Linked DNA regions of Homo sapiens: regions 1 and 3 are each linked to region 2. Evidence: fine-mapped QTL for protein levels in blood plasma. A gene starts in region 2. Each other region holds a variant in brackets. All regions are shown on one strand. Distances are between the middles of the regions. Region 1 has its middle 16 kb from the start of REG1A. Region 2 holds the start of REG1A (regenerating family member 1 alpha). Region 3 has its middle 14 kb from the start of REG1A.

The links. A credible set is the group of variants that fine-mapping cannot tell apart. PIP is the chance, under the fine-mapping model, that this variant and not a neighbour inherited with it causes the effect. Protein levels are from antibody-based Olink assays in UK Biobank. Linkage for the fine-mapping came from a reference panel and not from the study's own genotypes, which makes the PIPs less certain.
Region 1: its variant is the best candidate, but not a certain one, in a credible set for the plasma level of the REG1A protein (UK Biobank, PIP 0.51).
Region 3: its variant is the best candidate, but not a certain one, in a credible set for the plasma level of the REG1A protein (UK Biobank, PIP 0.60).

What each region holds. Positions count from the first base shown.
Region 1 is chr2:79,103,212-79,105,978 of GRCh38, reverse strand. No RefSeq gene overlaps it. Among named protein-coding and RNA genes, the nearest start is that of REG1A, 16 kb to the left of the region's middle. The variant A/CTTGA (reference allele first, on the strand shown) is at 1,283.
Region 2 is chr2:79,119,210-79,121,976 of GRCh38, reverse strand. REG1A (regenerating family member 1 alpha) reads right to left here and starts at 1,489. Exons shown (of 6, transcript NM_002909.5): 1 at 1,463-1,489; 2 at 1,052-1,161; 3 at 297-415. The coding sequence starts at 1,115.
Region 3 is chr2:79,133,041-79,135,807 of GRCh38, reverse strand. It overlaps the pseudogene REG1CP. Among named protein-coding and RNA genes, the nearest start is that of REG1A, 14 kb to the right of the region's middle. The variant C/G (reference allele first, on the strand shown) is at 1,648.

The DNA.
Region 1 (2,767 bases), 16 kb after region 2:
TCTCAGTAAACTATCGCAAGAACAAAAAACCAAACACCACATATTCTCACTCATAGGTGGGAACTGAACAATGAGATCACATGGACACAGGAAGGGGAACATCACACTCTGGGGCCTGTTGTGGGGTGGGGGGAGTGGGGAGGGATAGCATTGGGAGATATACCTAATGCTAGATGACGAGTTAGTGGGTGCAGCGCACCAGCATGGCACATGTATACATATGTAACTAACCTGCACATTGTGCACATGTACCCTAAAACTTAAAGTATAATTAAAAAAAAAAAAAAAAAAGGATCTCACTTGTGGCTACATCCACCATTCCAGAAGGTGCAGGATGTAAATCTTGGCAGTGCCCACTGGTTGCTAATTTTGTAGCCTTGCCTATTATAGATTTCAAAAGATGCCTCAGAGAGACTCGGGGCTCAAATAATTGACACAAGGACAGGGTCACCACAGAGTTTGTCCACTAGGGCAATTACTAGTAGAACTTTGGGGAGTGGGTTTTCTTCAAAACCCTAACTGTAGATCCAGCAGTGTGAGATGCCACCTGTAGAGGGCTGCATAAAAGAGACTCTAACCTCTGATAGCTACTTCCTGGGATGCATCCAGCAAAATCATGGGGGCCCAACCCTCACCCCAATATGTAGAGAAGGTTTGACTTGGAGCCAAAGACGATTATTCTCAAACCTCAAGATTTAATGTTATTTGCTTTGGTGGGAATTGGGCTTATTACAGACTTATTACAGACTTATTATTTATTTTTATTTTCCATTTCTCTCTTTTGGAATGAGGCTGTCCATCCTGTGCCTGTCCCATCACTATATTGTGGAAGTACATAACTTACTTGATTTCACAGCTGGAGAAACATGTGCCTCAGAATGAATCATACTTGACTTTCACACGTATCTGATTTTGATTATATTTAGATGATAATCTGGACCTTAGACTTTTAAGAGGATACTATAATGAGCTAAGACTTTTGGGGCTTTTGGGATGAAATGAAACATTTTGTACCTGAGAAATACATGATTTTTAGGCAGCTAGAATGCTGCAGTTTGAATGTTTGTCTTCTCCAAAGTTCATGTTGAAATTTAATTGCCATTGGAACAATGTTAAGAGGTGGGACTTTTATGTGGTGACCAGGCCATGAGGATTCTAAAGAACAATTCCTCCTTTCAGGAGCACACACACGCGTGCACACACACACACACACACACACACGGGTTTGTGGTGCTAGTGTGTGTGTAAAAGACAAATTAAATTGCAGGTTAAGAATTGGGTG[A/CTTGA]TGTCTTACATTTATTCACTTTTTAAGCTCTTCTTGTGGAGCCTCTGTCCTTGACCATAATCAATGGGTGGTTATGTGTTGAAATCATTCAGAATCCAGATAGCTGGATGAGTTGCATGTGGAAATAAGTAGAGGAAAATCAGTATTTTGGGAACTCAGGGAATGGCCCTGGAGCTAAACTGCATGTCTGAATCTAGTGCCAACACATAGTAGCTGTTTGGTTTTTTAAAATTTTATTTTCGGTTCAGGGGTACATGTGCACGTTTGTTATACAGGCAAATTGTGTGTTGCAGGAGTTTGATGTATGGATTGTTTCATCACCCAGGTAATATGCATAGTATCTGATAGGTAGATTTTCAATCCTTACTTTCCTTCCACCTTCTATCTTCAAGTAGGCCCTGTGTCTGTTGTTCCTTTCTTTGTGTCCATATGTACTTGATGTTTGGCTCACACTTTTAAGTGAGATCATGCAATATTTGGTTTTCTATTCCTGTGTTAGCAGCTGTTTTAATCTTGCAGGAGTTACCTAGCCTTTCTCTTGCCTTCATTTTTTTTATGTGTCAAATATGGTTCGTAGCAGCACCTACATTATTAGGTTTTCATGGGGATTAAATGGTTTCTAATTAGGCAAGCATTTAGAATTGTGCCTGGCATAGACAGCATGTGACAAAAATTAATGTTTAAAAATCAGAGGTTTCTTGTGAAGCAGAATAGGCTAACTTATAAGTAGGTTTCCTTACACCTGCAGAACACAGCAGACCATGGAATGTCCTTGCTGCATTTGTTATTTGTTCAGCTCCTTTCTTTTCCAGTCTAAAGTTTGCAGACAGGCTATTATTTACATGCCTGCCAAGGATTTAAACAAGTGGGAGATTATCTCTCTCTCATATGTCTAAAATCTCAATTCCAAAGGTGGAAAGCAGAGAATACCTCTTGGAAAATGGCAAACAGCACCTAGAATCAGCCATAGCCTTGGAATTTTCTTGGCGTTATTGGAGGCTTATCAGAAAGTTTCCCCACTTAAGGACATATTAACACTAGATTTCCAGGAGACTGCTTTCCATATACAAGAAGACTGCTGGAGGGAATATGATGGGAAAGACCTGAAATGAGCTTCTTGGAATCTTGTAAAACTATGTCACAGGAAGGGCCTTGTTTTCTGGAGGACAATGAGATAAACCTTGAACAGATAGGAAATACAGTTTATATGCAAAAGGCATCACTTTGGAACAAAGTAGCTGCCAGGTAAAGGTATCAGTTTTATTAGCTTGCACGCGGAATTTGGCCAGTCACATGTGCAAGCAATAAAGTTAATAACATCTCAATGTGTTTCCAGATACTGGTAGCAATAAAGATTTTTATGGGAATACTGTGTCAATTGTTGATACAGTATTGAACTGAATCTCTCTCTGTTTTATATCATGCCAGTTACAGTGTATTTCATTATGTATTTTAAAGTATTAGATCTTTTATATCTGGAATGTT
Region 2 (2,767 bases):
GAAAATGGAGCACTCAGTGGAGGAGGAAGTTGTGACGGATATACTGAGTCCTCCAAGAGGACGGGTCAGAAAAAGGACAGCAGAGTAATGTCCGTGATGATGCTGTCACTGACCACCAGGTTCTTTGTGCTGGGAATGTGCTGAATAATGGGATAAAGTAGATTGGAAAGTTTGGGGCTGATGATAGTATAGCAAGGGGTTCAGTCTCATCTCATTGCAGCCACTGAACACACTGGAGAGTGGCAGCTTCCCCTCCCTTCATGAGTCTCCCTTCCCACACTGCTCTCCTCACTCACATCTGCATCAACCCAGGTCTCACGGTCTTCATTAAAGTAGTAGCAGTAGGAGCGATAGGCATTGGTGCCTTCTGGGCAGCTGATCCGGGCCTGGGGCAACTCTGTCTGGGCCTCTTGGCCTGAAAAAGAAGAGACAATTAAAGGAGGCTCTCAGGGTAAGGAAAAGGCTTGAAGGTGAGGTAAGAGCTTCTGAGGTTCCTTTATAGAAACAGAAGAATCCAGTCTATTATGGGATGACTGCTCACTATTGCTCCTGCATCCTACATCTTCTGTCTTTGGTTTCTTTGATCAGGGGAAAAAAAACAGAATGAATAGGCCAAAGAAACAAGTCTCCAGTTTCCCTTTTATGTCTGGAGCTCAGGCTCTTCTACCTTGAAGGACTCAGCCTTCTACTTTCTCAAGCCTGACTTGGTTTCCCTGAACACAAGGCTCTCTTCAGTTCTCCACCCCATTAGTGACTGTCTACACACAGACATCCCCAAATCCACCATCACGTATAAATTTAATCAGATAAACTCATGCCAACTGCAGCAGTTGCTTATAAGGGGTCATTTTAAATTCTAGCTCCAACTCCTTAATGAGGTGTGGATGTATATAAATGTGAAGAGATCAGCAATAAAGATCACTAAACACCACAAAACAACCCTTAACAGTGACTCTGCTTTTTTTTTTTTTTTCAAGTAGACCCGTATGCTTGGGGATAGAGTGAAGTCTTCAGGGCTAGAAAGAGTTGGTTGGTGGAAAAGAGATCTTACCTTGGCTCTGAGACAGAAACATCAGGCAGGAGATCAGCATGAAGTATGAGCTGGTCTGAGCCATGCTGAGCTGCAATGAATCTCTTGCTTAAGAGGCAAATCAACAATCTCTATAGGAGAACACAGAGAAGGGGGTTCTGAGAGATGGAGAGCAAAGCACCTATTACCTTCCTTAAAACCTCCTCTCAGAATTTCTGAGACCAGGAAGGTCCTCTGAGACACCCACACCTTCAAATGTTTCTCTTGAGAGTGGGGATTATACAGACTCAGTAACTGAAAAACAACTTTGGATCCCACTGAGGCTTCATTACAGCTAAAACCTCTTGGACAGAAACTCATGCTGTATCTTCCCGAAGATTTTAGATCTACAGTGCATGTTAGAGACGCCCTTCTCCTGTAATGCCCACTTACCTGTTGGCTGAGTCTGAGTTGGCTTCTCAGGCCAGGTAGCTGTAGGAGCTTTATATCAGGATCTGAGATAAGAACCACGTCATTTAAGCAAAAGGGGTGGGGGCAAGCGGTGAGTTTTGGGAGCATTGACAGTAAGAGATTCTGGCACCAGTACGAGCCTTTTCCCGGCACACACTGGGAGTGGTCACAACTCAGGTCCCCTTCTGGCAAAAAATTTGGCAAGCTGTCTAAGTCCAAGGTGGACTTTGCTCTTGCTCAGCAGAAAACAACTGAGGGCTCCCATGTGCCCTAATAACCCAGAGAGGAGCAGAGAACAGTAGACTTCCTTGTATTCCCTGTAAATTTAGAGGCTCCTCTTTGGTGTCAGGCATGGGTAGGAGATGGGGAAGAATTAACTGATTCCAAATAATTTAGAACAATGTGCTTGTGGCAATAAGTGGTTCCTCCATGTCTTTTTAGGCTCACAAACCTCTCAAGACCTACCTCAAGGGGTAGGTTAAATTTATATTTCTAAACATTTAACATGTCTAACAAGGTTTGAGCTAACAAAATACACATATTCTCAATGTGAGAATTGTAGAGAGCTGATGCCTAAGGAAGCTTAAAGGAGCTAAATATGAAGTCAGGCTTCATTGAAATTGTCCATTTGAAGTCAACTGTTTGTTAGTATGAAGTCAAAGATTGTGTGGTGAAATTGAGTATTTACCAGAATCATCATAGAATAGTCATTTATAATTCAGGGAATAAAAGCCAATCAGAATGCAAAATTAGGAAGAAAAAACTAACCTGAATATTCACAGAAAGAGAGATAAGTATATGAATTGGGACAAATGGATTAACAAAATATAATAAAATACTAAACAGAATTTAAATCGAATAAAGTAGATATCTATATTTCAACTTGGACTAGTATCAAAGCCATAACATTGAATACAAAAATTCAGTTGCAAGAAGTTATAAGCTATTTGATAAACTTTATATATGGTTTTAAAAGACAGATTAATACTAAATTTTATTTATTAATCAATTCTTATACAGTTTAAAAAATAAAAATCTGAAATGTAAGAATATATATTACAATTTGTCATAGTATTTGCCTAACAATTTTAAGGTTTTTTTTTCTTTATATAAAAACTGATGATGGGCCTGGTGTGGTGGCTCAAGCCTGTCATCCCAGCACTTTGGGAGACTGAGATGAGAGGATCACTTGAGCCCAGGAATTCGAGACCAGCCTGGGCAACATAGCGAGACCCCATCTCTACAAAAAAAGTATATATATATATATATATATATATATATATATAT
Region 3 (2,767 bases), 14 kb before region 2:
TACACTCTGATCCCCTCAGTCTGAATCTTCTCATTGTCTTATAGGATTCAAGAAATGGAAGGATGATTCTTGTAAGGAGAAGTTCTCCTTTGTTTGCAAGTTCAAATACTGGAGGCAATTGTAAAATGGACGTCTAGAATTGGTCTACCAGTTACTATGGAGTAAAAGAATTAAACTGGACCATCTCTCTCCATATCAATCTGGACCATCTCTCCTCTGCTAAATTTGCATGACTGATCTTTAGTATCTTTACCTACCTCAATTTCTGGAGCCCTAAACAATAAAAATAAACATGTTTCCCCCATAGTGCTGTCTTCTGTGTCTGCTATTTCCCCACCTAATGCCTGGGTAGTTGGGATGGCAGTGATTGTAGCACTCTAGAAGTTGCTTCGGCCCATTCACTTTTAAAAACTTTGTCCACATATCATGCATGTTGGACTCAAGGGTTTATGAACATATGGTGGCCTTGCTTATGACAATGTTAAGAAGATAAGGATTTCACTCACCACCCACATATTTCCATGGACCCAGTGTCAGAGAAATTATTACTGTTGATTTACAAGTGACTGGAGTGTTTGGTACTCTAAAGAGGTTCACATACCTGTGACCTGAGGAAGGCACATCTGTGCTTTGTTATACAAGTTGAAGCTATGACTGAAGTGATAATTTGAGAATTGTCAGGTCTACAGTGTTGAATGCATTGGTGTTGGAATGACTAGAGGCTTGGTGGCCAGCAATGTTGGTTAAATGGCACTCCTGGAATGAACGGCTAAATGAATAATAAATTAGATTAATAAAATACTCAGGCATAGTTATTTAATAATCCTATCTTCATATACAGTCAAATTCTGAAGTACTGATGTTAGGACTTTAATGAATTAATTTTGTGGGAACACCATTCAGCCCATAACACCAACAGCATCAATAATACTATTACCTGGGATTTAATAAAACAATGCAATCAAAAGGCACATATTGTTAGTCTGAATTAAAACAACAACAAAATCTATTTATGAGCTATGAATAAATTGACTTAGATTCACAGACACTGTGGAGATGAAAGTGACTCCATCTTGGGTGCTAATCTGCCATGTTGACTTTTGATTAGCCCCAGTCGTGGGAATGCTTCCTGATTCCTACATTATTTACTGTCCTTAGGGTAAGAACATATACTTACTAGAAATCTTGCCTTTAGAAAAAAACAATCTTGAGGTCTTTGCACAAATGATAGGCTATAGTGAACATAGCATTCTTGTCTGTTTGGAAGGGTTGCCTCTAATTGTCTGTATAGAGCACGTGCACTCTTTCCCTGCGGTACATAAGCCCTGGGGCCAGGGAGTAACAGTGTGGAGATCTCCCTGTCGGTGGCCGCCAAGACCACACTTCTGTCTGTATGTTCCCCAGCAAATCACCCTTTACTGACAAACTGGACTCTTCTGCCTCAGTCTTTAGTTTCTTGGCTCCTTTCGTGTTTGGTGGTTGCTTTGCATATATGGTCATTTATGAAACAACTGGGGAGTCAGTCAATAGGGGTCCAGGAACCAAAGTTTGGGCAAAAGGCAGGAAACATACGTGGAGGAAATCCTGGCAGGCTCCCCTCATCTATGTGGGGTGGTGTTGGCTACTTGCTAGATGCCTGTGGACCAT[C/G]ATGTGAGTACAGAGATGCCCTGAAAATGCTGGAGGGTCTAGAATGCTTGTTAGTAGAACATCTTACAGCTCACTGGGGTAAGGAAGTTCACCAGGTGGCTGAGACAGAGGGTTGGCCACTGTTACGGATTGTGGGAATGGCCACAGAAGTGTAGTTAGCAGCTAAGATGAAGGTACTAAGACTAGAGGAAGAATTACCATTAGAAAAGGATATGTGGACCTCCACGTCCATGTTTGCATCTAGTCTGGCAGATAAGCTCAAAACTCAGGATACTCACCTGGAACCCCTAGCCTGCTGCTTTATATGGTTAGATGGGAGAGAGCTGTGTTGGCCAAAAGTGCAAGCTGTTCTTCCTAAATTGGACTGGAACGCTAAGACTTGTTGTCCTTAGGAACCAAATAGTGAGTGAGATGAAGACATACCTCAGGAGGAGGAGGATAATTATCCTTCCCTTTTGAGAGCAAGACCTCTCATGCAATGGAAAACAAAAGCCCAACGCCTGCAGCCAGCTGGTAATGGACAACCTTTTCAGGAAAACTTCAATGTCCAAAATTACACCTTGGCAGAATTATTGAACATAGCAAAAACTTTCAAAGAGCAGCCAATAGAAAGCTGAGCCACATGGATGATGCAGCGAAGAAAACCTAGCGTGAATGGCATTTCCTTAGCAGAAAGTGAAGCTGATACAATGAGTACTGTAACCACCCAATCTGCTTTGAGACAGCATTGCATAGTGCTGGAACTGCTGAGAGCAAGCACAGTCTTATAGACCAGATTATCCTGGCTGTGACAGAGGCTTGGCCAAATGAAGGGGACTTTCCGGGTCAAACTCTGGTAAGGTGAACTCTGGAGGAAACAAGGACCAATTTAAAGGAGTTGGTCATGCTCAGGCCATCTATGCCCAGCAATTTGCAGGACCAAATAAGGCCGTGTTTACCATAGGCAAAAATATATATATATATATAATAATAATAAGTTGTTGCAAGCTGCCCCGTCCCCACCACCCCTGGAATTGCTATGGTTCTTTCCTATGCCTCTTAAGCCCTCTTCTGGGACAAGATATATATTACATGAGGAAGCTGTAGCTAATCTTGGAAAAAATGAAAAGGAAAGAGATAA